Homo sapiens: one gene and its partner. The main gene of each other region encodes a partner of the protein of the gene in region 2 in a complex. Each region holds a gene or a part of one and is shown on either strand. Other genes may lie near its edges. A codon is read from its position in the direction of its gene.

The links.
Region 1: the proteins of APLN (region 2) and APLNR are in contact, whole or in part, in a cryo-EM structure (PDB 8XZG), measured with the Homo sapiens proteins. Residues at the interface, in NP_059109.3 of Homo sapiens: Arg66, Pro67, Arg68, Leu69, Ser70, His71, Lys72, Gly73, Pro74, Met75, Pro76, Phe77; in NP_005152.1 of Homo sapiens: Tyr35 (codon at 5,953), Phe78 (codon at 5,824), Trp85 (codon at 5,803), Tyr88 (codon at 5,794), Thr89 (codon at 5,791), Tyr93 (codon at 5,779), Ser106 (codon at 5,740), Ile109 (codon at 5,731), Phe110 (codon at 5,728), Met113 (codon at 5,719), Pro163 (codon at 5,569), Val164 (codon at 5,566), Arg168 (codon at 5,554), Gln180 (codon at 5,518), Cys181 (codon at 5,515), Tyr182 (codon at 5,512), Met183 (codon at 5,509), Tyr185 (codon at 5,503), Glu194 (codon at 5,476), Glu198 (codon at 5,464), Leu201 (codon at 5,455), Gly202 (codon at 5,452), Ser205 (codon at 5,443), Tyr264 (codon at 5,266), Lys268 (codon at 5,254), Tyr271 (codon at 5,245), Ser275 (codon at 5,233), Cys281 (codon at 5,215), Asp284 (codon at 5,206), Leu285 (codon at 5,203).

What each region holds. Positions count from the first base shown.
Region 1 is NC_000011.10:57,230,950-57,247,232, forward strand, and holds APLNR (apelin receptor), read right to left. Parts: upstream 6,302-16,283; 5' UTR 6,056-6,301; coding exon 4,913-6,055; 3' UTR 2,642-4,912; downstream 1-2,641. UniProt on the Homo sapiens protein: G protein-coupled receptor for peptide hormones apelin (APLN) and apelin receptor early endogenous ligand (APELA/ELA), that plays a role in the regulation of normal cardiovascular function and fluid homeostasis.
Region 2 is NC_000023.11:129,648,494-129,664,051, forward strand, and holds the start of APLN (apelin preproprotein), read right to left. Parts: upstream 6,464-15,558; 5' UTR 6,138-6,463; coding exon 6,071-6,137; intron 300-6,070; coding exon 133-299; 3' UTR 128-132; intron 1-127. UniProt on the Homo sapiens protein: Peptide hormone that functions as endogenous ligand for the G-protein-coupled apelin receptor (APLNR/APJ), that plays a role in cadiovascular homeostasis. Functions as a balanced agonist activating both G(i) protein pathway and beta-arrestin pathway of APLNR.

The DNA of each region.
Region 1 (16,283 bases), on a different chromosome or scaffold from region 2:
CTGTGTTCTCCGTGGGCAATTCCTCTGCCCAGAACATTTTCCCCACTAACCACTTACACTCCATGCTTCAGAGCAGGCTCCAGGCAGGCACCGTGGCTGTAAAGTCTCCCCTGACGCCCTGCCTGACTCCTTCCATTGTCTCCACGACAGGCCCTCGAACACTTCACACATTCCCTTAGAACTCACCACCCTGGGCTGTAATCGCCCATTTCACTGTCTGCCTCCACCAGCCGACTGCGAGCCCACTGGAGGCCGCTCACCATTTGGTCCTGCGTCCAGCATAGCGCTTGGCACATACGTGATAAATAAGGACTTGTGGAACAAACAGATGAATGAATGGGTGAATAAATGAAGGCATGTGTGAACCAGTGAATTAGTAAGTGCTGTCACAACCAAGGGAAGGCTAAAACCGTATCATGTTTTGGATAGCTTACCTCAGATTTCCCAGGAGACTTGCTGAGGTTTTTTACAGCATCTGTAAAAATAATGATAATAGTGGCTCCAATAGCCTGTTGTTGCCGTCGTAAATTCCCAAAGGGCTTTCCCTGGTGTGTTTCAGAAGAGGGAGAGCAGGCACTGATTCCCTGCCCTCAGTCTCCCTCCCTGCCTCCCCGTTTCTTCTTCCCACCTATGTTCTCACTCTCTGTCTCTCTCTGTCTCTATTTCTCTCTCCTCACTCTGCCTCTCTTTCACGGTCTCTGTCTCTGTCTTTGTCTCTGTTTCTTTCTCTTCCCACTGTCCCTGTCTCTCTCTCTCTCTCTCTCTTTCACTCTCTCTGCCTGTTTCTCTCTCTTCCCTCTCTCTCAATCTCTCTCTCCTCTCTCTTCTCTCCCTCTCCTTCTTTCTGTCTTTTTCTTTCACTATTTCTGCCTCTGTTTCTCTTTCCTCTCTCTTTCTGTCTCTCTTTTCTCTTTCTCTCCCTCCATCTCTGTCTCTTACACTATCTTTGCCTCTGTTTCTCTCTTCTCTCTCCCTCCCTCTGCCTCTGTCTCTATCTTTTTCACTATCTCTGCTCTGTTTCTCTCTCTTCTCAATCTCTCTCTTTCTCCCTGTCTCTCCTCTCTCTCCCTCCTTTGTCTCTATCTTTCTCTTTCACTGTCTACCTGATTCACTCTCTCTTCCCTCTCCCTCTGTCTTTTCTCTCTCAATTCCTCTCTCCCTGCTTCTATATCTCTCTCTTTCACTATCTCTGCCTCTGTTTCTCTCTCCCCATACTTCATTTCTCTCTCTCTGTCTCTCTCTCTCTTTCTCTCTCCCCCTCTCTCTCTTCCCTTGTCTCTATCTTTCTCTTCACTATCTCGCCTCTCTCTCTTCTTTCTCTGTCCCTCTGCTTTCTCCTCTCTGCCCTGTCTCTGTCTTTCGGGTACTCTCCATCATTTCCCTCCCCATCCCCATTCACTCTCCACTGTGTGCCAGGCATCTCACACAGAAGTTCTCACTTTCCTTCCCAGACACCTAGTGTTGCCTCATTTGTACTTTGGGAGAAACATCCCCTTACCATGGTCAAGAATGTGGGCTTTGGGCTTGGGAGCCAGACAGATTCAGCTGGTTCCAAGCCCAGCTCTTCCACCTGCTAGTCTGTGATCTTGGTCAAGAGGTCTAACTAACCTCTCTGAGTCTCAGCTTCCTTATGAGCAAAATGAGGTGAAAATGCCCCCTCTTAAAGGATGGCTGCAAGGATTAAATGAGATAATGCTTGGGAAATGCTTAGCACAGTGGCAGAACTCCATAAATGCGAGCTCTCTTGTTACTATCAGTTCTACTATGATTATTATTTTTTTGCATTGTCTGCAAACATTATTAATACCCAGGAGATCATTATTGAAGATGACAAATACCTCTGGACTGAATAGCCCCACCACCACGCCGACCCCAGGATCATTTCAGCCCCTTCCCCCCTCCTCCAAATAGATGACCACCAAAGCCCAGTTGGCTGTGGTTCTGACCCTCTGGTCTTCTATGCCCACTTTAATTTGGGCAGAATCCATCTGGATAGAGATTCCCTAAGCCTGGCTTTCCCAAAAAATTATCTGAGTTTTTAGTAATTGTAAATATCTGGGGTGAGTCAAGGAGAGTCTGACTCCATAGGTCTGGGGTGATACCCAGGAACTGGGTATTTTCAAAAGCATCCAGAGCGACTCTGATTGGAGAACAGGGATTCAAGCTTCTGGTCTAAACTCAGTGGCTACTCAAGTGATATTAAGTAAATCAATCAATAGGAGATGGTAAATGAATAAAGGCATAAATGAGTAGATGGATTGGTGGATGGATGGATGGATGGATGGATGGATGGATGGATGGATAGATGAGTAATAGGTCTACCTCCATGGGAAGAAATGCTGGTATTTTTCCCCAGACCTATGCTCTGGCCTCCAAAATATGTGTCCTTTTGTTCTGTGGCTTTTCAGAGCACAACACTTAGCTGCTCCCCTGTTTCTTTTCTTCCTTTTCTTCTCTGCACCTAAATCCCATCCTTTCCCTTTCCTGATGCCTATTTCCTCCATCCTCTCTCCCTCCTCACTTCGCCCCCTCCTTTTAGCTCCCACTTCTCTTTACGGCTTCCCCCTCACCATGCTGAAACATTTGCAAGCTGGAGGTTATCCCAAGACACTTTCATGAGAAGAGGCTTTGGACACAACAGTTGCACAAACAGTTTTATTTGATGAACCACAGTGACTAACAGGATCAGAAGACAGTGCAGATATTCTGAAGAAGGCACTGGGGGAGGTAAGGGGGTATCACAGCAGGCAGCCTCCTCTGCTTCTGTCCCAGTTCACAGATGAGTTCCAGGCAGGAAGTCTCTGCAGGTCACCCACGGCGGCCTCAGAGGGACAATTTCTTCCCTTCTAGAAGCCTCTTCCAGTGTTCACTGGATGCTTTGAGGACAGCTCTGGGCAGAGGAGGTGACTCTGTGAAAGATGCTATCTTAAGATGGGGAGACTAGGCTGTGAGGAGCCCCTTCCCCTCTCCTCCTCCCTCTGCCCCCAGAGCTGGCGTCATTCCAGGGAGGGTCAAGATGTCCATTCACATCAAGCTGGGCTTTTCTTATCTCCATCGCTCATGTCTTGTCCTTCACTTTCATAGTCCTCCAAGAACAAAACCCGGAATAGACACTCCCAGCCTCTAGCTCACAAAGGCCCCACTATTAATTTCATCCTCACGGTCTCTCTGGCAGTGTAGACATCATGCTATCTGCACACTTGCTCCAGTCCCTATTCCCAGATCCCCAATCCAGCAGAAGCCAAGAGGTCCAATCCTGAGGGTAGGGAGAGAAAAAACCCACCCCGTGCCTTTTGGCCCATGGCAAGCAGGAGGCCTCCTTAGGAAGAGGGCCACTGACCCTGGAACAAGAAAGGACGATGAGGGCAATGCTCATAAATTTGAAGCCAGGCGGGGAGGCACCGGAAAGGGGCCAAGGGAGGCTCTCAACTAGCCTCTTACTTCCTTCATGGAGCCCAAGAAGGAGCAGGAACCCAGCTCAGTAGGACGCCCCCAAGCCTTGGCGCCAGCTGCTTTGGGGAGGGATCTCCCTACAGGAAGCCTGGTGCAAACATTAACTTCGCTCCTAAAGCACGGACCAGCCGTTGGAGCCCCCAAATCCAGTAGGGGGTGGACTCATTTTTATTCTACATTTTTCATTGCCTCAGTGTGTCCCTGCCCCCCACCACCCCCTGCCAAGGGTAATGTGTGAACAGCAGAGTTGCAGTGGATTGGGGGGTGGGAGGAGGTTTGTCCAAATGACCCAGGCACACTGCTGTTCATGCCAGGCTCATCCATATAGACATATAAGTACAACACACACAGACAAGAGGCAGGCATCTCCATCCCAAACAACATGATTCTTGGCACCAAGTAGCACCAGTGCCCAAGAAAGAAATCAGTATGATGGGGTAAGATGGGGAGATGAGGAAACCCTTCAGCTCACAGTTATGCAGGAAGTCAGAAACAGGAGGACTCGGGGAGCGAGCCAAGCAGTGTCTGGACTAAATGCAGACACCCCTCCATCCTCTCTCTCTAGTTGCCCTTCCCAACTCCCCACTCACATAATGAAACCAAGGAGTACATCCATTCATCAGCCCTGCTGCCTTCCAATTCTCATAGAAAATAGAGGAAGGATGAAAGGGTCTGCGGACAATTTGGAGAAAGCATATCTAGTCAGTGTCATGGTGCCATGGGGGAACTGCAGGAATCACACTAGCCCCAATGCCCAAAATGACAGGGAAGTGATCCAATTTTAGGGCAAGCTCTGGAGCTCCCAGATCTAAGGGCTGGAGCACTAATTATCTGCTGACACACAGCCCACCCCCGGCCCCAGCCCATTCCCTGCCTCACACTCAGAAAACAGGATAGAAAGCTTAAACAGGGTCAGTCTCTGCAAGCTTTGGGATCCTTAACCCTTAGTAGCCCTTCAGAACAAGAAAGTAGACAGGGGAGAAGGATGGATGGAGGGAGGGGGACGAGCTGTAGGAGGGGATTGGTGCCAGAAGGCAGGGATAAGGAGCGGCAGCTGCAGAGAGTGGTGGGGGAAAAACTACAAGGAAAGAAGGGAGGAAAGACGATTGCAGATCTAAGAAAGCAGCAGAGGGAAACAAGCTTTTACTGCGTCCAGACTCAGGCTTCAACATTTTAGGATCAATATGACTTTCCCCCATTTCATACCAATGGAGAAACTGAGGCTGAGTGAGATTAAATGGCTTGTGCAGGGTCAGGTCTGTAGAGCCCAGTCTCTTTCCCCTAAACCACAAACCTCTGAGAAAGAATAAAGCAGTAGAGGAGGACAGGGCGGGGCAGAATCAGGGGACAGTTAAAGGATGTGCATAGGACAAGGAGTAGCCACACTACCTGATTTTCAGAAAGCAAGGGCAAAGGCCGGGGAGGGCCGAGGGCGCCAGGCTTCTCTCTGCTCCCAGCCCTAGTCAACCACAAGGGTCTCCTGGCTGTAGGGGATGGATTTCTCGTGCATCTGTTCTCCACCCTTGCCCATGTTGGGGCCGGGCCCCTGGCTGTGCCCCGAAGAGTAGCTGGCTGACTTCTCCCCACTGCTGCTGTGGGAGGTGCCTGCGCACCTGCTCTGGCCACAGCAGAGCATGGAGGTGCAGGCCTGGCGGAAGCGGGGGTCGAAAAAGGCATAGAGGAAGGGGTTGAGGCAGCTGTTGACGTAGCTGATGCAGGTGCAGTAGGGGAAGATGTTCATGAGGAAGAGGTCAAAGTCACAGGGCCAGTGCAGCAGGCTGCCCAGCATGTACAGCGTCTTCACCAGGTGGTAGGGCATCCAGCACAGGGCAAAGGTCACCACCAGCACCACGATGATGCTGAGCAGCCGGCGCCGCTTCCGCAGGCCCTCGATGCGTTCCTTGCGGAAGTGGCCAGCGATGGTTTGGGCGATGAAGAAGTAACAGGTCAGCATGATGGTGAAGGGCACCACAAAGCCCACGGTGGTGGACGAGACCCCAAGGCCCACCTCCCAGGCCCACTCTGAGCTCACAGTGGCCACCATGGAGTAGTCCATGTAGCACTGCACCTTAGTGGTGTTCTCCAAGTCCCCGGTGGTGCGTAACACCATGACAGGCATGGCCAGGAGGGCGGCCAGCACCCAAAGAACTGCCGTGGCCACGGCCCCGCTGACCCGCAGCCTCAGCCGAGCATTGGCCACTGGCCTCACGATGGCCAGGTAGCGGTCGAAGCTGAGGCCGGTGAGGCAGAAGACGCTGGCGTACATGTTGACGAAGATGAGGTAGCTGCTGAGCTTGCAGAAGAAGGTCCCAAAGGGCCAGTCATAGTCCCGGTACGTGTAGGTAGCCCACAGGGGCAGCGTCACCACGAAGGTCAGGTCAGCCACCGCCAGGCTAGCAATGAAGATATCAGCTGAGCGCCTCTTCTCCCGGCTGCTCCGAAACACGGTCCAGAGCACCAGACCGTTGCCCGTGGTGCCCAGGAGGAAGACCAACATGTAGATGGCAGGGATGAGGGCCCCCGAGGATTTCCAGTCTGTGTACTCACACTCAGACTGGTTGTCTGCCCCATAGTAGTTGTCAAAATCACCACCTTCCTCCATGCTGGGGAGTGGAGAGAAGACGGGCAGAGGGTCCCAGGGACACCAGCTCCGTGGCTCTGTCACCCACTCTGCAAGCAGCCTGAATTTCTGGCTTGAGCCTCAGAGAGTAAGAAGGGCTGAAGATGCCCAGAGTCCTTCCCAGCACTCAGGAGGAGCTGCCTCTGGGTTCTCCAGACCCTGGAGGAAGCCTGTCTCCTGCAGAATTTCCTCCACCCTCTCTTGCCTTACCCCCGTCTCAGTTAAGACACTTCCTTGCACCCTCCTGCGTCCCTGTCTCCTCCTTGACTCGTCACTCCCTCCTCCCACCTCCAGACCAGCCCCTCTCTTGTGAGTCAAAATCTTTAGTGACAGCCCACTTTTTTTTTCTTTTTGTCACTGAGCAAGTGGACCAAATTGACCCCTACTGTGCTGGGCTGAACATTATCTGTGGTTTTGCAAGTCGGCTTTCCTGGCCCCGCCTCTCCTTTCTGGCTGCCACCCACCTTCACCCCAGCCCCTATCCCTCCACTTTCCTCTGGCCACCACTTCCTGCCTGCCCTTTAGGGCACTCCCTCCTCAGTGCTCTCCGCCCTCCTGTTCTCACCCCCTTCCATCCAATCTAAATGGGACACATTATGCAGATTGCAATCCAGCTTGAGCTGGAGCCAGGGCTGGTAGGGAGCAAGGAGGGTGTAAGATTTCGCAGGATGGGCAGGGCATCTGGCAGGTCCTCCTGGCAGGCAGGTCTGGCCCCCTCGGCTCCCTTCCTGCACCCCCAGCCCCCACCCAGACCAGGTGTCACAGGAGGGTCTTCTCCCACTTTGCCTCTCGCTTCATCTTTCTCTACCCCTTGGCTTTGACCCTCCCTCTGAGAACTTTTGTGGTTTCTAGAGAAATACCCCTACACTAGTGTAGACTGCAGTTTGCAGTTTGCGGAAGGCACAGGATGCTTTAGAAGGTTGAGGGCAGTCACAGGATGGAAGAAACCCAGGACAAAATTATCTCTAAACAAGTCATTAAATCTGTAGGAAACAAAGGCCCAACAAGGTCAATGTTTTGCCCAAGGTAATAAAGTGAATTATGCTACAGTTGATTGTTTGCTTTTCTTCTTCTCCAAACACGAACATAATACAGTACCTGGCATGTCGTAGGTGAATGGCTGTTTTGTTTGTTTGTTTGTTTGTTGAGACAGAGTTTCACTCTTGTTGCCCAGGCTGGTCTAGGCTCACTGCAACTTCTGCCTCCTGGGTTCAAGCGATTCTCCCGCCTCAGCCTCCCTAGTAGCTGGGATTGCAGGCTAATTTTTTTGTATTTTTAGTAGAGATGGGGATTGACCAGGCTAGTCTCAAACTCCTGACCTCAGATGATCCACCCACCTCGGCCTCCCAAAGTGCTGAAATTACAGGCATGAGCCACCACGCCCAGCCAGGTGAATGGCTGTTGAGTGAGTAAGTGGATGGATGATGTAGGAGGTGAGTGAAAAGGGGAATCCATAGATGGAAGAACAAGTGTAAGAATTACTACGTGGTGAGAACATGGATACATTTCAGTTCTCAGGTTTTTACTATCCTCCATGGACCAAGAGGTTTCTGTAAGACCACAGGGGGTCAGGAAGTTGAGCTAGAGGAGGGGGGTCTCTAGAGAAAGACTCAGTCACTGGAGGATACTGTGGGGAAAGTTCCGTAGACGCTCACTTTGCCCCAGCTCATCACCTCTCCAGGACCTCTAGGAAGGAAGGAAGATGCACGACGTAAGATTTTTTTTAAAAAATACGCACCCTTTCCACAACCTTGAAGAGTTGGGGAAGCCACCTGACGTTGGGTAATAGTGAGATGGAACAAAAGCAGGAGCTGAGCCTTAGCCACTTCCAAGGCAAAAGACTTACAAAAGCTGGAATTGGCCAGGCAAGGTGGCTCATGCCTATAATCCCAGCACTTTGGGAGGCCAAGGCAGGAAGACTGCTTGAGCCCAGGAGTTCAAGACTAGCCTGAATAACACAGCCAAGACCCTGTCTCACGATATATATTTGTCTTAAGTTACTACAAAAGCTGGAATCCATTTTCTGGAGGGAGAGTGGATCAGAAAATCATATGCAGAGATCAAGGAACTCAAACTCAAATACCTGCAAAAAAAAAAAAAAAAAACAGGCCAAGAGTGTAGTTTGAGACAACAGAGAATGGTAAAGACTGTGGCAAACTGGAGGGTGCCCATTCCATCATAGGGAGGCCTCTTCAGCTCTAGTCTCTGGTTGCCACGCAGAAAGCTGGACCCCAGCATGACTGTGTCTTAGGATTTTTCCAAGATAATTTCAAATTATGGATTTTTGTAAGAAATTTTCATATTTGTAAATTTTGGAAATCAATTTTCATTTCAAAAAAAAGCACAGACCATGATAAGTAAAACATGTCTTTGGCCCCCGAGTTTGTGTTCTTTAAACAGGAGCTTGCCAAGAATAGAAGGCAGGAGAAGAACCAAGAGGATGGGGCAGGAGGAGGAAACAAAAAATGCAAAGATAGAAAAAGCCTTAGAGTGCAGTGGGGAGATACAGGAGAGAAGGCTGCAGAGAGAGATTAGAAAGATCCTGTGACCTTCACCTAAATGCAATGTGGAGTAATGAATATGTTGGTGTTTCTCATGAGGACTACATGTTGCCCACTTATTGTGTGCCAGGCAGTCTTCTAAACATTTTATACATTCTACATATATTTATTAGTATCTCTTTTAATCATCAAAATGACATTAGGAGGCAGGTGCTCTCATTAGCCTCAATTTACAGATGAGGAAACTGAGGCACACAGAGGTGAAGCAGTTTAGCCAAGATCACCCAGCAGTAATTGTCAGAGCCAGAATTTGAACCAAAGCTGTCTCGAGCCCATGGACTAAACCACTATGCTCCCAAAGAAAAACGCCCAATCCTTTTTAAACTGAGGGGTGTGTCATCTGTTAAGCATTAGAGAAATGTAGGGCGATGCCAGGATACCTGTAATTTACCTTAAAATAAGCTCTACCGGGTGAGATTTTAAATAGATTGACTATTTAGAGACACACCTCACATTGATTAGACAGGGTATAAGAATCCTGCCAGGCAATAATCTGTACACTTAGGGTTAGCACCATAGACTTGATCCAGAAACCACCCTCGCTCTAGCCATTGCCAAAGAGAATTCCTGGTTGCCTGGTGCCAGCTAGAAAGCTAACAGGACTCTGCCCCTGGAATCTTGGCATTCTGTACAGTGGGGGCTGGGACACCCAATAGGATCCAGAGCTGGGGCTCCATCCATCTCACAGTACACAGGGTAGGAATTGCTTGGGGCCTCTTGCTCCTGCATTTTTGGCTAATAGAAGTTCTGCGCAGATGGCAGAATGGTTTTCATTATATCCTGACATTCATTCATCATATCATGATTCATTCATCATATCCTGATATAATAGTTTCATTATATCCTGACATTATATCCTGGGTGGAAATAGCTAACCTTTGGCTACCTCAGACTTCTTCAGTGGTAAGCTATCTTTACCTATCAAAGGGGACCTTGGAGTTGTGCAGGGACCAGCTTGGCTCAGGTCAGGTCATAATAGATGGCCCTTTTACGAGTAAACATTACTGCTTGGGACATTCCAGGATAAAGACCAAGTTTGAGACGCCTAGTGATCCCAGTTCTCCCATGATTCTCCCAGAAAGATGCAGATGTCTGTGCCCTTTGCAGCTAGAAATACAGAGAGAAGGGAGCTAGCAAGCTTGAAGCGTCCCTGAAATCAGGTCCCTGTCTCCCTCCCCTCAGCTGTTCCCACTGGAATGCTGAGCCAGACAGGAGCCTGGAGACCCCTGTGGGAAAGGATATGGATCCATCGCTTTCATCTGCCGACCTCCAGGATGTCTGCCCTAGAGGGAGTAAAGAGCAGTTAATCTCACTAGAGTTACCAGACTCATTGAGAGGGGAGGGAATTGGGGGCCAGGGCTGGGAAGAGGCCACCGTTTGGGACCAGAGAGGGTAGAGTGCTGATAAGATCCGGCCTCCAACCAGGAGCCAGCTGTAGCCAGATGGCCTGAGTGCCCCCTGCAATGACAGCCTGAAGTGAGCAGAATTAGCCAGCTCACTCCTTATCCTGCCTGATCTGATCTGTCCCTGTTCCGCATTGCACCATTCCACACAGAAGAAAGACTGGAAAATAGGACCAGTAGCTGAAGATGAAACTTGTGTGTCCCGGGGCTCAGAAGTATATGGGTCCTGGGCCTCACAGACTAGACATATACAAGGCCTGGGACAGATATCTTCTTTTCATTTCTGCCCCCCACCCTACTTGGCACCTGGTAAAAGTCTGTTGAATTAAAGCAATAGAAACACACTCAGGAGAAGGGTGTAAGACTTGGATCTTCACCCCAGAGCTGCTCTACTGCATTAACAAGGCAACTTTTGCTAAAGTGATCCAGGAAATTCTACTCTGAGCTATCTGGCAAACCAATAGCTAAGGCAAGCCTGTTGGCCAGGGTGCCCAGAGCTGGCCTGCCCTGGAGAGGCCTGCACAGGTTTCCTGGGGAACTTCCCTCTCTCTCCTGGGTGATTTCTTCAGGGCATTGTGATGAGACCGAGATGAATGACACCTGGCAGAAAAGCACTCCAGACCTGCTAGTGCCCTTTGAGGAGAGCCCAGACTTCTGGGAGACCTCTGGAGTCAGTGGTTCAATATTCCTCACCCACCCCACCACCAGGTTTGTGCCTGGCCTAAAAAGCAGAGCCTGACTTGGCCTGTGCCCATGGACATGCTGACTATGTGTGCTTTGTGAATGCAAGTTTTCTGTGTGCCACGAGGTCACTTGGATGTGAAGTCTGTAGGTGCTTGTGAGCAGGCTGAACTTGTGTGTGCAGGGGGATATGAGTGTGCACTGGGTGCATGCATTCATGGATGTAGAATAGTGTGCTTGCTTGTGCATAGTGAGGTAGGATGTGCATTGGGTGCATGCATTCATGCATGTAGAACAGTGTGCTTGCTTGTGCATAGTGGGCTATGATGTGCATTGGGTTCATGCATTAACGTGTATAGAAGAGTATGCATGTTTGTGTGTTGTAGGCATGAGCGTGCACTGAATGCACACATTCACCCAAGGAATGTACATCAGGTGCGTAGAAGAGTGTGCTTGCTTGTGTGTAGTGGGATCAGAGATCTGAATAAACACACTGCTTGCAGTACAGGGACGGGTGCTTAATTGGATCTCTCTAAGAGTTTGGGATGAAGGGGGAAAGCTGAACCCCTCTGCTGGGACCTCACCCAGACCCTACCCAAAGCTGTGGGCTGGGGACATCAAAGTGGAAGTACTGCCTTTCTGTGCTCTTCCTGACTTCTCACCTCCTCCCTCCTAGCTCTCTGCTCCAGCCCCCTCACTTCACAGGTCTGCTTTGAACTCCACAGCTTGGGAACTCACCCAGGGCAACAGGGCCTTTTTCTCTCCTTCCCGAGAGGCAGCCACAGCTGTGTCCCTAACAGCTGGTGGTGTTATCTGAGGGAAAGGGGAAGGGAGGGCAGGGACACAGGAGGGATATAACTTGACTGCCCAGCCCACACTGAGGAATTTCACCTCTCCTTTCTCTAGCACACAACACCCCCAACCCCCACCCTAGGCACGCGCGCGTGCGCGCGCGCACGCGCACACACACACACACACACACACACACACACACACGCCCGACTTTAGCAGCTTATCTGACCAAAAACAAATGGTCAGCCGCTTTCTGATAATTAAAACAGAAACCCCCTCAGCAACTCTCTCCACCCCCAACCCCACCATTTGGTGCTATTTCAAACTCTAAGGCCATACTGCAAACTCCCAAAACTCCCTGGTCTCTGGGGACAGCAAGAAAACTCACCCACTGGCCTGGTTCTAGCTTTCTGTGATTCTGGGAATTACGGCTATGGCTTCCAAATATGGTTGGAGAAGTGGGTTTCTTGCCAAAAAGATCAAAAGTGGGAGACAAACTGACCCTCTTGTTCTAATCCCATCCTAATTCATTCACTCAGAAAATATTGAGCAACTACTGGCCGGGCACGGTGGCTCACGCCTGTAATCCCAGCACTTTGGGAGGCCTAGGTGGGTGGATCACCTGAGGTACGGAGTTCGAGACCAGCTTGGCCAACATGGGGAAACTCCGTCTCTACTAAAAATACAAATATCAGCCGGACATGGTCGCGGGCGCCTGTAATCCCAGCTACCTGGGAGGCTGAATAAGGAGAACCACTGGAACCTAGGAGGCAGACGTTGTAGTGAGCCGAGATCGCGCCACTGCACTCCTGCCTGGGCAACAAGAGCGAGACTCCATCTCAAAAAAAAAAAAAATTTGAGCAACTACTATGTGCCAGGCTCTATTTGAGGCACTTGCCATACAGTGTGAGCAATTCAAACTATGCCCTCGGTTTCCTGCACTTTCATTCTAGAGGTGGAAGAGAGACAAAACGATGAAAGTTAGATAAATGCAGTGAACTCAGGTAATGATAAGCACTACAAGGAAAGATAAACTGGAGAGTGATGCAGCGAGTAAATGGAAACTGGCATTTTCAGATAGTATAGATCGGGGAGGTTTCTTAGGAGTCACTGATATCTTACCTGAACTCCAATAACTAGCTTGCTTTGTACCCTGGGCAAGGCTTTTGCCCCTCTCTGTGGGGCAGTTTCCCTATCTGTACATGAGGACATTGGGCCAGCCGGGTTTAGCTTTCTGTGATTCTGGGAATTATGGCTATGGCTTCCAGATGTGATTGGAGAAGTGGGTTTCTTGCCAAAAAGATCAAAAGTGGGAGACAAACTGACCCTCTTGTTGATGAATGGCAAGATCACATGAGAATCCATTCTCCCCACTACAGCACCAAGCCCACTTTGACGGGCTATTTGTTAGACTGTGAGAATCAGGGGTCTGGAAGCCTTTCCTTATCTCCCACCCACCTCCTGTCACCCTTTTACCTACCATTACCCACCCATCCCCCCATTACTTGGCACAGCGCCCCATACATAGTGCCCTCTAATATATGCACTGGAATTGTAGGACCCCCATTTCTATAACCTCTGGAGTAATCAGAACTTTCTTAGGGGCTGGGCCTGGTGGCTCACCCCTGTAACCCAGCACTTTGGGAGGCCGAGGCAGGTGGATCACCTGAGATCAGGAGTTCGATACCAGCCTGGCTAACATGGTGAAACTCTGTCTCTACTAAAAATACAAAAAATTAGCTGGGCGTGGTGGTGGGCACCTGTAATCCCAGCTACTCAGGAGGCTAAGACAGGAGAATTTGCTACGAGCCAAGATCACAGCATTGCACTCCAGCCTGGGCAACAAGAGTAAAACTCTGTCTCAAAAAAAAAAGAAAAGAAAAGAAAAGAAAGAAAGAACTTTCTTAGGACAATCTGGATGGGGCACTGGGTTCCCATGACTTAGAACAGGAAAGATGCCTAAAATTTTATTAGCCCATTGATTCCCACGCTGACATCAGAGACCCTTGATGATAGAAATGGGGAGAGAGGCAGTAGCTTGGGCCAGCATCAGCATTTCATGAAATCTTGTGGAAATGGCACATTCTTCTCACCCTATCATAAGACAACCCTCTTTAAATGTCAAGCACCAGCACCGCGAGCTTAGACTTTAATAAATTAGTGTGGGGACTCTGGTTACTCCATGCTGCTCATCATGCCTTTGATGAATAAAAACTGAGCAGATGAATTCATTACGATTTCATAAACAAGGTGGGTTAGATCAACAGACTCCTTCCTTAAAAAGGATTCACTGTGGGGAGAACAGGAAAGCAAGCGAGACAGTCTTTGATGCCGAAAGGTTGTGGCTGCGATCTGCTCCACACACTTGACCTTACCCATGGGGAAAGCAAGGGAGGGAGAGCCAAAGGGTTTTGTCCAGGTGTCCCTATGCCACCCTGTCTTCTCCTCCCACCCCCAAAGGTTAGGTGCAGAGGAAGTCTTTGTTTGGCTGAGAGGAGGGACTTGGGCAGGAGGCCGTGAAGACAGGAAGTACAGCAGAGGCAGGAAGGAGGTCAGGAAGAGGCTGACAGGACCAGGCCGGCTCACACCCAGCCCTGCCAGCCTTCAGGAGAGCAACATGGTGTTTCTAAAAATATTTACAGTGAGTCTACATTAATGAGATATATATCAGCACTGACAATGGGAGGATGCTGGGCCAGGCCCTCCAGGGTAGAAGACCAACGCAATTAGCCCAGAGGCTGCACAAAGGCAAGGCCAGCCTTGTGGGAAGGCCTTGTGGGAAGTCTTGGGGAAGGCCAGCCTTGCACAGCTAAAGGAAGAAATCAAGCCTTCCACCCTGGGGCCCAAACAGGCAATGGAGACCACAGTGCCCCAGAAACCTCCCCCGGGGAACAGAAAACATCCCAGATTCCTGGACCTGCAACGAGCATCTTCAACCTGCATCCCTGACCCCAATTCAGTGCAGAAATCTCCTCTACCACACCCACTCTGAGGACCATCCAGGGGTCTCTTGAATACCCCTGTTGACCAGACACTCAATCCTGCCTCCAGCAGCCCATTCCCATTCCAGTCTTGGCATCCCTACCCATTCAACCTTCAGGAGAGGAGAGTGGTTCAGAACATAGAGGCTGGAGTCAGGTAGCCACTTACAAGTCACTTTGCCATGGAGCACCAAGGAGTGTGATCATTTCAAGTCTTGGTTTTCTCATCTGTAAAATGGGAGTCATTAGAATATCTACTGCCCCAGGGCTGGTATAAGGTTTCAGCAAGGTAAAGGAGACAGCATGCAAAGAATGCCATGTGGACAGAAAGACACAGGCTAAGGTGCAAAGATGCAAAAGGAAGAATTTAAGGCTGGGTGTGGTGGCTCACGCCTGTAATCCCAGCATTTGGGAGGCCAAGGCGGGCAGATCACAAGGTCAGGAGTTCAAGACTAGCCTGGCCAAGATGGTGAAACCCCACCTCTACTAAAAATACAAAAATTAGATGGGTGTGGTGGCGGGCGCCTGTAATCCCAGCTACTTTGGAGGCTGAGGCAGAGAATTGCTTAAACCTGGGAGGCAGAGGTTGCAGTGAGCCGAGATCGCACCACTTCAACCAGCCTGTGCAACAAAGTGAGACTCCATCTCAAAAAAAAAAGAAGAAGAAAAGAAAAGAAAGAAAGAATTTAAAATGTCCTAGGACTAAAGTGACATAAGGCTAAGAAAATTAGCAAATGCCATTTTGCTGCTGAAGAGCTAACACTGCACTGTGCAGTGGGCGAGCCACTTGCCATGTGTGGCTATGGAGGGCTGGAAATGTGGCCAGGCAGATGGTGGGACACTGCAGGTGTAGAACACACACTGGGTTTCAAAGACTTAGTATGAAAAAAGAACGTAATATATCTCATTAGTAATTTTTTTCTATTGATTGCATGTCAAAATGATAACATTTGGATATATTAAAGTAAGTACATTGTTAAAATGAAGTCTACTTCTTTTGTTTCTTTTACTTTTTTTTTTTTTTTTTTTTTTTTTTGTGAGACAGAGTCTTGCTCTGTCACCCAGGCTGGAGTGCAGTGGCGGGATTTCAGCTCATTGCAACCTCCGTCTCCCAGGTTCAAGTGATTCTCCCGCCTCAGCCTCCCGAGTAGCTAAGATTACAGGTATGTGCCATCATGCCTGGAAAATTTTTGTATTTTTGGTAGAGACAGGGTTTTGCCATATTGACCAGGCTGGTCTCAAAATCCTGACATCAAGTGATATGCCCACATCGGCCTCCCAAAGTGCTGGGATTACAGGAGTGAGCCTCCATGCCCAGCCTCGTTTACTTTTTTAATGTGTCTACTAGGAAAATTAAAATCACATATGTAACTTCTGTTATAGTCCTATTGGATAGTGCTGAGCTGAAGGATCATATCTAAGCCTTAGGATGCTCACTCTGGAGGCATCTTTGAGGATGGGTTAGAATGGGTTAGGCTCGTTAGGAAACAGGTGCAGTTTTTCAGACCAAAGGCCCATATTAAGGAGAAGACTCCAATTCCAATTTTCCAACTACAGGTAGTTTGTCACCAACAAACAAAAAATAATAATAATAATAGTAATGGCTCTTACTTATTAAGTGCTTACTCCATGTCAGCAGGCACTGTTCTAGTGAAGGACCATGATTTTAAAAAGTGAACTCTGAAAGCAAAAATGCCTGGTTTTAAATCCTGGTTCTGCTAGTATACGAAGCCTCAGTTTCATCAACCTTAAAATAGGGGTAACCGTATATAGCATTGTCAGAACTACGAGA
Region 2 (15,558 bases):
TGTGAGTGTGGCGCCAGGACTGTTTGATGGATGTGTCTGGCCAGTGATGAGCGGCAGGATCACCCGGCTTCTAGGCTGTCCTTCTCCCTCCGCTTTAGCACTGTCCACTGAACAGAGGCTCAAGTACCTGCTTCAGAAAGGCATGGGTCCCTTATGGGAGAGGCGGGGCCGCTGGCGGCGGAATTTCCTCCGACCTCCCTGCCAGGGCCCTGGCCCATTCCTTGACCCTCTGGGCTGCACCAGGTGGCGGACATTGCCGTCTTCCAGCCCATTCCCATCGGGAAGCGGCATCAGGGACCCTGCAGGAAGGAGAAAGCCTGTTAGTGAGGAAGGTTGTTGGAAACGGGCAGGGGCTGCAGACCACAGGCCCGCGGGAGGGGTGGTCTGTCCATGTGGTGGCACTTCTCATAGATTTTCTTTGTTTCTTTTTTTCATATTGAGGGAAAATTTGCCATTTCTGCACTGTCCTGGGACAAACGGAACCTACTACTCACATCTTGCCATTGATGTAGCTGACTTTCTGTCCTTTTGACAGTTATATCATGTTTCTGACAGGCACAAGTGGGTTCTTTCTTTGGAACGTCATTGGGGGGTGTGCACTTTGGGTTGTCACGCCTGTACTTGGCTGGGGGGCAGGAGGCAGTAATCACCACGGCACCCCTGCAACTGGTACACTTCAAACATTTCAGACATATGACATTACAATGACCCTCCCACCGCCATGGACCCATCACCCAGATTCAACAGTTATCCAGATGGAGTCACATATGCTTTAGTTATCCCTTTTCTATTTTCCTTGACTGCAGTATTTTAAAGCAAATCCCGAACATCACGTCATTGTACTCCTACATCCTTTGATATGCAGGATGACCCACTTGTGAGTACTAGGGAGCTCATATCTCGCCCCTGGGTGTCTCATCGGTGGTTAGGCATCTCTAGGGCGCCAAGTCCTCCCAGTGGATGGGGCTGGGCCAGGCGGGTTAAGGGGGAGAGGTCTCTGACTCAGCCTGCCTCATGCTGTGACCAGATTTAGAGACCTGAGACCAGATTTAGAGACCAATAAATATTGCATGAATATTTGAGAATGAATAAATGAAACAATGGTCACCTTCAGCAGCATGTCTGTGCACCAGGAGGGGGGTGGGCTGTTGCAGTTGGTACCTCCCCACCAATGCCCTACCTCCTGAAATTCCCAGATCACACCCTGCATCCTGTGTCTCATGTAAATTCCTTCCATTTCAATCCCAGCTGGCTTCTATTCTGCACTCTGGGGCTCCTCTTTACATCTGTCCACATCTGTCAGGAGGCTTAGAGTAGAGGCCTCCTGACACCAGACTGAGCCCTGACAATGGAATCCAAGTGGTGCAGGGTATCCTTGGGTGCAGTGAGGGAAAAGGCATGCAGGCCGACTCTCGTGAAGCCTGCAGTCCATGCAGGGAAGCTGAGCTGCCACCCCCAAGACAAGCCTGGCTGGTGGTGGCAGGCAGTGTGTGGAGATGAGATGGTGCTGGGGAAGAGGCAGCCAGGCAGGGTACTTGTGCAATGTCCAGTACAGGCCTGTGCAGATACAGCATCTGAGGCCAGAGATAATGAATAACAGTCTCTCTCCCCCTGCACACCATCTGATTTGCCTGCATCTAGATCCCTGTCCCTCGAGCCCCATTGCCATCTACCCAGGAATTCCCACCACTTGCTCACAGTTTCCATAGAGCCTCCCATTGGCTGCTCACACCCCAATCATACCCCTGGCAGCTCCCCCTTCCCCTCTGCCTCTGCCTCCAACATCCCCACGCTCTGTTCCTTCCTTGGCTCCTTGGTTTTTGTGAGTCCTCCTCTGCTTGCACACAATTTCCAAGTGTTCAGCCTCCTCTTGGGCCAAAAGTGGGTGGGTTTGGCCTTAGGGCCCTCTTCCCCCAGGCTTCTGAGCCTGCAGTTCTCCCCACTCACACCCAGACATACCCACCCCCTCCACACACACACACATAAACACATATTCTCCAAGCCTGCACCCTCCTTCCCTCTTTCCCCAAGAAAAATTGCCAGGCCCATGAGGACCCCGCTGTTGACTTGGGTCATTTGGTTAACTAGCCACACTTCCGTGCCAACTTATCCCTTAAATTCATAACCTATGAGAATTAAAAGAAGAATTATCTTAGCACTTTGGAGCAGTAAGTATGGATGGAACAAGGGGGCTGCTTCTGTCTGACTGTCATAGAGCTACCCTCTTGGCGCCATCTGTGAGGGGGCTGGGGCTGGAGAGGGAAAGGAAGGAAAGACCTTCACTAAGCTCCCCACTGCAGCTGCTTCAGCCTCTGCCTTGAGTTCTGGGGTCCCCACAAGGCTCACCCTGATCACTGAGGGCGGATCTGAATGATGCTGATAAGGAGCAGGGGAAGGACCTAGGGGCCTTGTGAAGTGAACCAAGTCAACACTTGGCTCTCACCTCTGCACCTTCGACTGCTGGGGGTGCAGAAGGGATGGGGCAGTGGTGCAGGCCATTGTAGCTCAGGGTGGTGGCAGACATGGAGAAGAGAAGCATGGTGCCAGGAGGGGGAGGGCATCATCTCCAGGTGCTCAGATTGTGAGTGTCTGGCAGTCAGAAAGGGAGGGCTAGAGGCCATATGTCAGGATGGGGAGCAGGGTTGGTGGCTCTGGCCAGGAAGATGTCTAGACTCTAGGTCTGCAGAGAAGAACCACTCTGAGCTGACTGAACCCCCAGCCGGGCCCTGGAGAGCAGCCCCAGGCTTCTTGCATCCCTCCCATTGCGTTGGGGACTCATTGTCCTCAGCATCACCGAGATCTGCTGGCTCCTCCCGCACTCTGAGCCCGTCACCCACCTGTTTCCTACTTTTGATTCTGAGTCTGGCTCACCATCAGATAAGCTGACATCTGAAACCCTGGCTTTATGCTGTCCAAAGGAACAAATTAGAGGCTGTTGATTCTCATCACTGCAGAAGTCTTGACTGTAAAAAAGAATTCCCCTTTAGAAATGGAGGCCAGCCCTAATGCACTTAAATATTTTCTTCCAGCTCATTTGCTACGTAAAAGGAGGCTGGAGCAATCCTCCAAACAATCTCGAGCCTAGAGAGATTGGAGCCATTGCCTGCTGAAGTGCCATCAGCCACGAAGCTACAACATCTCCACGCTGAGAACCACAGTCAGGGGGAGGACAGGATTTGACTTTCATGCTATCTGAACTCCAACCCTGCCAATGCACAAAGAGGTACTTGCGACTTTTCAGGAACATGCCAGTCTCATCAGGAATGACGCACCTGTTTTTCCTCTCTCAGTCTGGCCTGTCTTGTGATGACTTTAAAAGCCCAAACGTATGCTCCGGTGGGGACCCTGCTGGCAATGCCCCTCCACTGCTCTGTGGTCCTGCATGTGTCTCTTTGTCTGCCCAGCCCCCCATCCCAGTCGCCTTCTCCAGGGCCCTGTGCTGTCTCCAGTGCCAGCTTTGCTGCCCTGGGATACATCATGCTCTGTCTGGTGGCCCTCTGCTTCCCTTGCCTTAGTTCTTTGCGAGGAGAGGCCTGGCTCAGGTTACACGGGTGCTTAGTGCTGAGGACTGGGGATGGAGTAGAGATGCCCTTCCCTGAGCAGGAGGGGTACAGTAGGCTCTCCTCACACTCCCACTGTGACTGCAGGCTTTGAGCTGGGCCTGCGGAGGGGGAGGAGAAGGGGAAAAAGAGGGGTGCTCAGAGACCGAGGGACACTTGGCCCTGGACCAGGAGTTCTCAGACTCACAAGAGCAAAGTGTATCCCAGGTCAGGAGGCAGTGGAGGAGTGTACGTGGTGGTAGCGGGGTGATGAGAGGCAGCGTGGAGAGGGGTCGGGGGTGGACATTTCAAGTCAGGACAGACTGTGGAGAGGAGGAAGTGTGGTTTTCAGGCTGGAACTTTGACTGGGGACTCTGGCTGGGGACAGCATGCCAGTCCGGGCCAAGGACAAAGTGGTTCTGGGATTCCTGCTTCTAACCCAGGACAGGAGCCAGCGGGAGCAGGACATGTGTACCTGGACCCTTGGCTGGTGGCCACTTCCAGGGACATGCCCTTCCTTGGCTCCAGGAGAAGTCAGGGAGTAGAGAAGTCAGTGAGAGCCCTGAAAGTTTCCAGCACGAGGCTTGAGCAAAATGTGAGGGCAACGAATTTATCCAAATCACAGTGGACAGATGACCTAATGAAGACGGGGGAATTAAAGCACGAAGTGGCAGGCTCTGGACCAGCCACATGGTGTTCGGGCATCCTGGCTGACTTCCCTTCCCTTGAAACCAGCTCTCTCCCCTTTGCTAGTACTGTCCCAATGGCTGGGACCCAGGAGGGTCTGAGTGGTTGTCTATTGGCCAGGGGTCTCCCCACAGCCTCTGGGGGGAGCACCAAGTGTGCAGATCCAGGAGCCCTACCTTCCTCTGGAACACTCTCTGCACCCAGTCTTCTTCTTCCCTGAAGGCACCACCCTGGACTATTTGCCTGTGGTGGTATTGTGCAAGTGTCATGCCTTGCCAATGACACCAGATGGTAGGCTCCCTGAGGATAGGCTGGTATGGTGTATCATTCGTATCTTACATTCGTATCTTTTGCTCCCTCTGTTACCTGCCTGACAGGAGTTTCTGTGGAAAAAGCCTACCCACTTCTTACTGTGGTGGTGGCTCACTTCGTGTTCAGGTCTTGAATAGAGAAATCACCGGCCAGCTACCTGGAGGCAGGAGGTGCCAGCCCCAACCACTGCACCTTTCTGAGAAGCCAGGCAGTGTTCCCAGAGCCACAGCAGGGCCAAAAAGCAAGAGCAGAGAAAGGAGGTGGCCTGCGATGAGAGGCAGGCAGAGCTGGCTGGGCCCCTCGGAGGCTCCTGGGCTGCATGCCATCCTCCTGTTCTGGAGGGTTTGGAACCACTTAGGGCCCTGTGCCCTTGCCCCAGGAAACTCACTGCCCTGCCTTCTCCTTCTTTCTGCTCCCACCTCCCTGTGACTCCAGCCATGGTCCTGGCGTTAGTCCACCTGGTCTTGGCCTTCCCCTTGTGTGGTGCCAGGCAGGCAGCAATGACAGCCAGATCATAGGACTGTGGCAGCTGGAGGTGGGAGCTGGCAGCCCCAGGAGACATTGACACAGAGGACAGGCAGCCTGGGATGGGGCTGCTGGGGCGTGGTTGGGGACCAGGCTAGGGGCGGACATGGGCACTAGTGCCAAGTATTGGCAGGTGAGGGCAAAAGGACTCCCCTTTCCTGAGCTGCAGGGAGGGGTCGGGTCAGGTGCTGTGCTTCCTCCTTTGGTGCCTAGCGGCAGGGAGACTAAAGTGAAGCATGTCCGTGCCTGGGACAGAAAGGAAGGCTGGAGCCAGGATGTAAGAGAACCAAGTCTCTGGGGGTGGGATGGAGGCTATGGGGAGGGCATCCTGTGCAGGGGAGGAGACCAGCCAGGACCTTGGGGTTAGGGAGGAGAAGACCAGCCCAGCCCGGCTGGGCCCGGCCCTGCCTGGGGGAGGCTGCCTCTGCTCACACATGCAGGCCGAAAGGAGCAACAGCTGGGCTCCATGCCGCCACCCCCTCCGCGCACTCCTGCCTATGCAACAAGTGTCACGTCTGCATGTTGGCACATCATCCCCGGTTTCCCGCGCCCCTGGACTGGCGGGAGGCTCCCAGCCTTCAGGGACCAGAAGACGTTCAACATGGGAGCCCAGCCCACTCGACTCTGGTCAGTTCCTTCCATCGATCCACGAGGGAGCGGGCATGTCCCCCGCCTCCACCTCTACCACGCGGGGTGCAGGGCGTGGGACACGCGGCGCACACCTGTGGTCCTGAGCTCCTGGGACTGCGAGCGACGGTTAGGAGGGACAAGGTGACGGGCAGGTGATGCCAAAGGCCGAGTTGAGCCCCGCAAAAGAAGCAGTCCTTGTGGCCAGCCGCCCCATGGCTCGGGGCGCTCTGTCAATCTGCTGCCTGGCGCTGGCCGGCGCGTGGCTGCTACTGCACGGCTCGCGCCGGGCTCCCCGGGAGGCGGGGAGAGTGCGAATAGGGCGGAGGGAAAGGAGCACGCCGGCTGCAGCCCGGGCGAGCGGGAGGGCGCGCACTCACCTCCACACACCGCGGTCAAGGAGAGCCAGAGCAGCAGGAGCGCCTGCACGCAGAGCCGCAGATTCATGCTGCTCCTTGGGCCGCCGCGGCCCCGGCGAGCCGGCGCGGGGGAGGAGAGGTCGGGCGCCCGGAGGCCAAGAAAGGCGCGAGCCGCGGCTGGCGCGTGCGGGCGCAGAGCTCGGGAGGCTCCCCGGCCGCTGAGTGTGCGCGCTGAGCCCCGCCGCTCCCGCTGGCCGCCTCCGCTCTTCTGCAGCCTCCTCTCCCGCCGCGGGGCAGCGCCGCGAAGCTGGCCTCGGCGGCTCCGGGAGCGGCAGCGGCGAGCTCTTTCTTAGCGGCTGGCTGCTCGGCCGCGGCTGCAACTGCCCGTGACCCCGGCTGCCAGAGAGAATGCTCCCCGCTCACTCCAGGGGCTGCATTTTGTAGCTTGTGGCTTGGCCGCGAGCCCACTTGGTCATGTGGTCATCGGGAGGGCTAGAGGGGGGGCAGGAAGAGGGAGAGGGAGCGAGCCTCCCGCACCGCCCCCCTCCAGGCACGCACTCTGCAGCCCCAGCCCGAGCGTGAGCGCGAGAGGGAACCCCGAGGTGGCCCCACAACAAAGGCTGCGCGGCCTCTCTGACAACCTACAACCGCTCCCCGGACAATGCCCGCCTGGCCGGGGGCCAGAGGGTTTGCAGAGACCTGAAGGATTTCAAACACAGGAAGCATTTGGGGCGGTGGAGGGGCACACTTAACCCTTTCTCACCTTGCTTCCTTAACAGCTGTCAGGAAACCTGGGCGCTTAGGGAAGGACTCAGTCTGGGTTGCCTTCACTCACGCCCTCTACCTCTGACCCTGGTCCTTGCCCTTGCCGCTGGCCAGCTTCAAGGGTTTGGTCAAGACAACCAAACACTGGCCCTCCTCTCTCCTCTGCATTTTCAACTGGCTTTGAATTGGGGGTGACTGCCTAGGCTTGTGCCCAAGGCTTGATTAATTGCCCAGGCCCCTCATGTTCCCTGCATCCCCCAGGAGGCACCCTCTACCTGGAATGCCCCCACCCCACCCTTCCGTGAGCAATTCATTCTTTGCAGCAGCACCTCAAATCCCATCGCATCCAGAAGCCTTCTCAGGATAACACTAATCCAGCAGGGGCCGCCCATCAGCTCCTCCCCACTGTTGGGACATGGGACAGCTCCTATGGTCTACCCTTTCTTGTTCCCTGGAGCTGTCCTCATTCTAGTTCCCCATCAACGTAAGAGGCAGGTGGTTTACCCAACTCCACACAGTCAAGGCTGGATTCATTTTGCGTGTACTTGCGATTCCGCTTTAGAAGCGGGTCCTGAAGTTGTTTGCCTTTCCAGACTCGATTGTTAGCTGCTTCTATAGCTTGGGAGCTCCCAAGGCATGGGGCTGCTTCCCTCATTGGACTGGGAACCCCCTAAGGTAGGATACTGTCTTCTCACTCTTCTGGATCTCTCCAAAGTCCCCAATATCTTGCTCTGCACATAGGTGGCACTCAACACATATTAAAAGACTGAATCGAAAGGTGTCTCCACCTTTCAGCAAGCCAGGCAGTTTGCTTGAAGTGTTAAGTCCAGATTTACACAAAAGATACATTGGACAGGGTGCGTGTGTGCCATAAAAGACATGAGAGACCATGGCATATTTAAAATATCTTTGAAATGTTGCAAAAATCCTATATATACACAATGTATTTATTATCAGTCTCTCTCCACCAGAAGGGTTACCTCCACAAGGGAGGGATCTTTGCTTTGTTCACAGCTGTGTCCCCAGACCTAGAACAGTACCTGCGACATGACTGGTACTCAATACATAATTTTGAATATATAAATGAAATTTTCAAAAACATCTTTACTGCCTAAATTCAGGTAGCAGGAAGGGAATAAGATAAGGTTCTCATTAATAGCCTATGGCCCATTAACCACACTCAAGTAAAAAAAAAAAGCATGTGAAGCATGGCACCCCTCTTCATCCTTGAGACCCAGGATATGAGTAGCAGACATGGGTAGCAGGAGACCATTCTCCCTTCACTGTTCCCCTGGAAAGAGTTTGCTTTCTTTCTCTTTTCTTTTTCTTTTTTTCTTTTTTCTTTCTTTCTTCTTTTTTTTTTTTTTTTTTTTGAGACCGAGTTTTGCTCTGTCGCTCAAGCTGGAGTGCAATACCCTATCTCAGCTCACTGCAACCTCCGCCTCCCAGGTTCAAGCGATTCTCCTGCCTCAGCCTCCTGAGTAGCTGGGATTACAGGCATGCGCCACCATGCCCGACTAATTTTGTATTTTTAGTAGAGACGGGGTTTCACCAGGTTGGTCAGGCTGGTCTCGAACTCCTGACCTCAGATGATCCACCCGCCTCGGCCTCCCAAAGTGTTGGGATTACAGGCGTTAGCCACCACGCCTGGATGGAAAGCATTTTCTAACCAGGAGGAGAAACACCTGGCTTCTAGTCTCCACCCTCATTTGCTGTAGGGCCTTGCCATCATCACCTAAACTTACTGGGGTTCATGGAGGTGATAATCTCTGCTCTACCCACTTCAAAGTTGTTATGGGATTAAGTGAGATAATGTGCCTGAAGGTACCGTGCAAATTAAGAATAAGCTCTTGCAGGGTTGTTTTTAGGAAACTTGGTGCTCCAATCCTTGATTGGGCAAGCCCATGCACACCCAAATAAGTGTCCCCCATAACTAGGTTAATAGAAGCCTTCATATTTAATTGCACCTTTACTAGGGTGTGTATGGCATATTGCTAAGTGGTTGGAACACATAGCGCTTTCTAATACAATAGCCACTAATCATATTTCCAATGAAGTTTAAAATTCAGTTCCTCAGTTCCACTGGCCACGCTTCAATTGCCTATATGTGGCTAGTGGCTACTGTATTGGACAGCACAGAATAGAATCTTCAATCACTGCAGAAAGTTCTATTGGTTAGAGCATTCATTCATTCTTCTTTTTTCTATAATCCATTTTCCCACCCTACCTAGCCTTCAAAATGTACAAGGTGAGGGGAAAAAAAGCATAAAAGCAAACCAATAGAAATTCAAGCCAAGCTGAAGGCATGCGTTTAGAGTAAGATTTAAAGATCTGACACTTGGGAGAATCATTTTTTAATTGAATCCTTCTCTTCATTTAACCAAATTACATCCATTTTTTTTTAGAGGCAGGGTCTTGCTCTGTTACCCTAGGCTGAAGTGCAGTAGTGCAATCACAGCCCAATGCAGGCTCAAACTTCTAGGCTCAAGTGATCCTCCCACCTCAGCCTCCCAAGTAGCTGGGACTACAGACATGCACCACCATACCAGGCTAATTTTTAAATTTATTTATATTTTTTGTAGAGACTGAGTCTTACTATGTTTCTCAGGCTGGTCTTAAACTCCTGGTCTCAAGCAATCCTCCCATCTCGGCCTCCCAAAGTGCTGGGATTACAAGTGTGAGTCACCATGCCTGGCCACATCTGTTTTCGTAGTCCCAGATCCAAGATTTCATCTTTCTTTCTCAGGACACCCTTGCCCACAGTGACTTTGCCCTCTCCATAACAGCTATGGCTGTACCTGTCATTGGTAGGTCCTCTCACAGTGCATCAGGAACACTTTTGCATCTGCACACTGTGCTCTACGGGCCTGCTGTAATTCTGCAGAGAGGACCCATCACCACCATATCCATTCAGGGGTCAAGGCCCATGAGGCAAGGAACGCAGCTCTGATTGCCCACTCTGAACCCCTTGTAGGCTCCCAGATATCTTAATATCAGATTGAAATGACCAGTTTTCGAATATCTGTATCTATTTGCCAGACTTTAAGGTCACTGCTGTGATAGCACCTAGCACAATGCCTGGCACATAATTGATACTTCATAACTGCCTGTCAGGTGAGCAACTGTCGGCCCAACACTGTGCTGTCTTTTGTTCAGGATACTATTGAATGAATATCAGCAGGATAAATGTTTTAAGGCATAAGTCTCCAATCCCTGGGCCATGGACCACTATGGCTCCCTGTTCTATTAGGAACCAGGCCTCACAGCAGGAGGTGAGCAGCAGATGGGCCAGCGAAGCATCATCTGTATTTACAGCCGCTCTCCATTGCTCCCATTACCACCTGAGCTCCACCTTCTGTCAGATCAGCAGTGGCGTTACATTGTCATAGGAGCACGAACCCTATTGTAAACTGCATGTGTGAGGGATCTAGGTTGCATGTTCTTTATGAGAATCTAATGCCTGATGATCTGTCACTGTCTCTCATCACCCCCAGATGGGACCATCTAGTTGTAGGAAAACAAACTCAGGGCTCCCACTGATTCTACATTGTGGTGAGTTGTAGCATTATTTCATTATATATTACAAAAAAAAAATAGAAATAAAGTGCACAATAAATATAATGCACTTGAGTCATCCTGAAACCATCCCTCCTAACCCTAGTCCATGGAAAAGTTGTCTTTCATGAAACCAATCCCTGATGCCAAAAATGTGGGGACCACTGTTTCAAGGTATTTCTCTGGAGATGGGAAGGAGGTACATGAAACTGTCCACACTCTCCTGCCCTGAGGCAGCAAGTAGCTGTAAAATTTCTGGAAATGTTGCTGCATTTGGGGCTCAGGACCTGTGGTCAGCAGCAAGACTCAGTTTCCAGTCAAGGTGAGGGACAATCCTGGGGGCAAGGGTAGGACTCAGTGCATTGTTGGGGACAGAAGTGAGATAGCTGACCTATGTGAGTTCAAAGTGTGACTTGCCCCCCTCATCAGAGCTATCCACATGCTATTCAGTTCTGCTTATTGTCCTATGTCACCACCAGCCACTGCTGTTCAGTTGACTCATCCACGTCTCTTGTGGGTTAAAGTGAACAGTGTGAGGCATTAAAAAGAACTCAGCTTTTGGAGTTTCACATAACTGAATTCAAATCCTGCCCCTCAACCCCATTCGTTAGCTGTGTGACCTTGGGCAAGTTATTCAGCTTCTCTGAGGCTCAGTTTTTTCCTCTGTTAAATGAGGATAATAATGGTACCTAATTTTTTAAGTGCTAAGGTTTGAATGTATGTGTCCCTCCAAAATTCATATGTTTAATTTTTTTGTTTTTGTTTTTGGAGATGGAGTTTCACTCTTGTTGCCCAGGCTATAGTGCAATGGTACGATCTTGGCTCACCGTAACCTCTGCCTCCCGGGTTCAAGTGATTCCCCTGCCTCAGCCTCCAGAGTAGCTGGGATTACACGCATGTGCCACCACATCCGGCTAATTTTTTATATTTTTAGTAGAGATGGGGTTTCTCCATGTTGGTCAGGCTGGTCTCAAACTCCTGACCTCAGGTGATCCCCCCGCCTTGGCCTCCCAAAGTGCTGTGATTACAGGCGTGAGCCACCACGCCTGGCCTCATATGTTGAAATTAAAAGCCCAAGGTGATGTGTTAAGAGGAAGGGCCTTTTGAGATTGATTAAGTCATGAGGGTTCCACCCTCATGAATTAATTAGTGCTCTTATAAAAGAAGTTGGAAGGGGCACCCTAGTTCCCTTTTTGCCCTTCTGTCCCTTATGTCATATGAGGACACAGTGTTTGAACGCTCCAGAGGAAGCAGCATTCAAGACACCATCTAGTAAGCACAGACTGGGCCCTCATCAGACACAGAAACTGCCAGCACCTTGATCTCAGACTTCCCAGCCTCCAGAACTGTAAGAAATAAATTTGGATTATTTATAATTATCCAGTCTCGAGTATTCTGTTATAGCAACAGGAATGGACAAAGACATTATGGTTGGGAGATTAAATGAGATAATGTGTGTAAAATACTTAGCACAGTCCCCTGCTCATTGGATGTTAGTTTTCTCCTCTTCCTGACCTGCTTCTCCCCCCACCTTTGGGTCTATCCTCTGGCCTTCTGAAACTGATCAGGAAGAAAGGGCTCTGATATGGTTTGGATCTGTGTCCCCACCAAATCTCCTGTAGAATTATAATCCCAAGTGTTGGAGGTGGTGTCTGGTGGGAGGTGACTGGATCATGGGGGCAGAGTTCTCATGAGACTGGGTAATTTATAAAGAAAAGAGTTTTAATTGACTCACGGTTCCACATGGCTGGGGAGGCCTCAGGAGACTTGCAATTATGGTGGAAGCCAAAGGGGAAGCCAGGCACATCTTACAAGGCAGCAGGAGAAAGAGAGAGGGAGGGGGAACTGCCAAACACTTTTAAACCATCAGATCTTATGAGAACTCACTCACTATCATGAGAACAGCATGGGGGAAACGACCCCATGATCAAATCACCTCCCACCAGGTCCCTCCCTCAACATGTGGGGATTACAATTCAAGATGAGATTTGGGTGGGGACACAGAACCAAACTATATCACTGCCTAACCTCAAAGCCCACACTCTTTCCTCACTGAACATCAAGAAGCAGTTTCTCGGGAGGCTGAGGCCGGGGAATGGCGTGAACCCAGGAGGCGGAGCTTGCAGTGAGCCGAGATCGCGCCACTGCACTCCAGACTGGGTGACAGAGTGAGACTCTGTCTCCAAAAAAAAAAAAGAAGCAGTTTCTCACTTTTTGGGTCCACCTATCACTTTATTTGAACTTCTAGCACCTAACTCATACTGTCTTGAATTAGGAAGCCATGAAGTACATAGTGGTTAAGCACATGGGTTCTAGAATAAGGCAGCTCTGTCTCTTACTACATAGGTAACTTTGAGCAAATTATTAACCTTTCTGAGCCTTAGGTGCCTCATCAGAAAAAAGGGCTAGCACCTAGCTCCCATTGTTACTGAAAGGATTAAAAGAATCAATACCTATAAAGTACTCGGCACTGAGTTTGGTTCTTATAGTAAGGGAAGCATTGTGTAAATGTTACATATTCCCATGGGTATTTGTATATATCTCTGACTTATATGAGATAGTAACACTATGTCTTATTCGTTTTTATATTCTCACCAGCAGTGCTGTTGCCCAAAGCAAATACTCAATAAATGTTTGTTGAATGAAAGAAGGAATTGTATATTCTTGTTAATAATTGCTCTAGGTTTATGATCCATATCAAGTGTCTCTATTTGGGCAAAATCATCACAACTTGTCCAACTGGTTCTTAGATGGGTCAACACTAACAGCTAACAGACATACACAAAGATGTGACCATCTTCCCTCTCCTCATTGTGTAGTAGTTGTTTTTACTGGATCAATGCAAAAAGTGGAGTGGGGAGAGGACATCTGAAGAAGGATGACCCTGGCCAGCAATCAGAGAGATTTCATAACAGCAAGAGCCCCAACCCCCTCATTATGCAGATGGAGAAACTGAGGTCCAGAAAGGAAAAGTGACTTACCCAAAGCTACACAGAAAGCTGGTGGCAAAGTCAGGACGGAGCCTAGGTTCAACTAAATCCCAACTCCTATTTTTCCTTCTGTGTCTTCCCAGCATAGAAGTAGCGCTCACTGGCCAAGCAGTCCCCTAGCTGGCTGCATAGGCACAACAAAATGACTGTGGTTAGGCACAGGATTCTCATTCCATAGGCCAGCGCTTTTGGAGCATCTCAGAATGAGTCTTCCCATTGTCACTCATCTAATTTGTTCCTTAAGACATAAGCTAAATTAATGAGCAAAAGAAGTTCAGTAGCAGCAACATCGGGAAAAAGTATTTAAGAAGAACTTCAAAGCTTACCCTGCCTCTGAAGCTACTTAACAGGAACTTGGGGGAAAAAAGCATGGGCCAGCTGCTAGTTGATGCCTCACTAACTAGCTTCATGACAAATTATCTTTGCTCAGTTAACCACCACAAGAGAACATGAATTTTTCACTCTCTCATTACTGAGTATTTGTCTTTCTGATACTAACGGCTAGAGTTGAGCTTTCTAACTCATCTATAACCACCAGAGCAGCCAGCACAATGCTTGCCATAGAGTAGTAGATGCTTAAGCCATATTCATGGGTTCACTTTCCCATTCTGGGTGTGAGACCATTTAAATCAGAGACATGATGTTCATTATGTGAAACTTAGCCTGGAACTTATTCTGTGAATCAAAAGATCCTAATAATCATTTTGAGGGAATAATCTCTTTGTTGGACTTTGCTGGGGTTTCTTCTTCAGCTAACTGTGTGATTCTTGTCTTGATGTCCAATACCTCTTAATTCTGATCACCAGCTAGGTCCTAAGCCTGGCCACAGACCGAGATCTTGTCTTTCACACTTGCCCTCTTCCCAAGCACACAGAGTCAAATACTAACCATCACACGGTATCAGGTTTGCAAAAATTAGAGAAGTAGCCATTTTGCAGCATAACCACATTATCTCTATTCACATCTCAAGTGTTTAATACTATATTCAAGTCACTACATGCTAATTCCTTCCATGGGACACCTTTCAGCCACTGCCACATGGGCTCCAACTGCCCTGGAAATGCTTATTCCATTTCTCTGTTTCTTCCAACTTCTTTGCAAACTACATACCTTCTCAGATCGTCTGATATATTCAAGGAACACCAGGGGTTCCCACAGATACGCCTTCCTTGACACAACACCCAAGTTCCTGAAAAATGTTGTCAGTGGAATTCAGATAATCAGCTATATTTCAAATGTCTTTGAAGGGTTCACAGTTTATTAGCTGAATAAGTCCTAAGAGAGATTCTCTGAGGTGAAGAACTGTTCCTCTGTTCCTGCCCCCAGCCCAGCCCAGCTCCACAGAATTACCCCCTTTTCCCTACATCCTGCTTCATTCCTTCTGATCCTCTCCCATAGCCACACAGGTCCCCATTCCTCCTGTTTGTCTTTCAGAGCAGTTTCATTTCCTCTGCATATCCTCTATGACGTCTCCCAGGAGCCTCCATCCTTCCTCTCCCCTACGGTCTATAAATACCCTGGTCTCCCAGGGGAGGCATGTGAATTCCTTCCTTACGCAGCAAGGCCCTGTGAGTTAGGATAGCCACTCCCAAAGGAGCAGGTTTATCTCCAAAGTCCATTGAACCTTTCTTCCTCTTGCTTTGCTGGTTAATATTATCTGGGCTTATATCATGTAAGATATTATATGTCTCAAATCTGGCACCTTTGTTTGCAGAGCCAGGGCAAAGACTGTTGAGGACACGGTATTGAGTCTATGACCAGTTCCGTTATGGGCTTAGAGTTCTGGGATAATAAGGTCAAAGTCAGAGAGATAATGAGGTCAGCTTTGTTCTATCCCAAACTCAAGTTTGGATTGACACCAGTCACTACCTGAATCCTAACCATGGCCACAGACTGAGATCTTTTGAGGTTCTTACTTTTTGACTTTCATACATTTCCCATACACATAAAGAGAGAGTCAAATATTGTACTAAAATTTAAAAGGTAACACTTCTGGAGAAAAAAGAAAGAAAACTAGCCATCTTACAGCAAAACTCCATGTGTTAATTTCTCAGGGCTGCTATGACAGATTACCACAAACTTCGTGGCTTAAAACAACAGTTTATTTCTTCTCACTTCTGGAAGCCAGAAATCTGAAATCAAGAAAGCTCTAGGGTGAGAAGTTTATGATAAATTAGTGAAGTGATAGATGTGTAAATT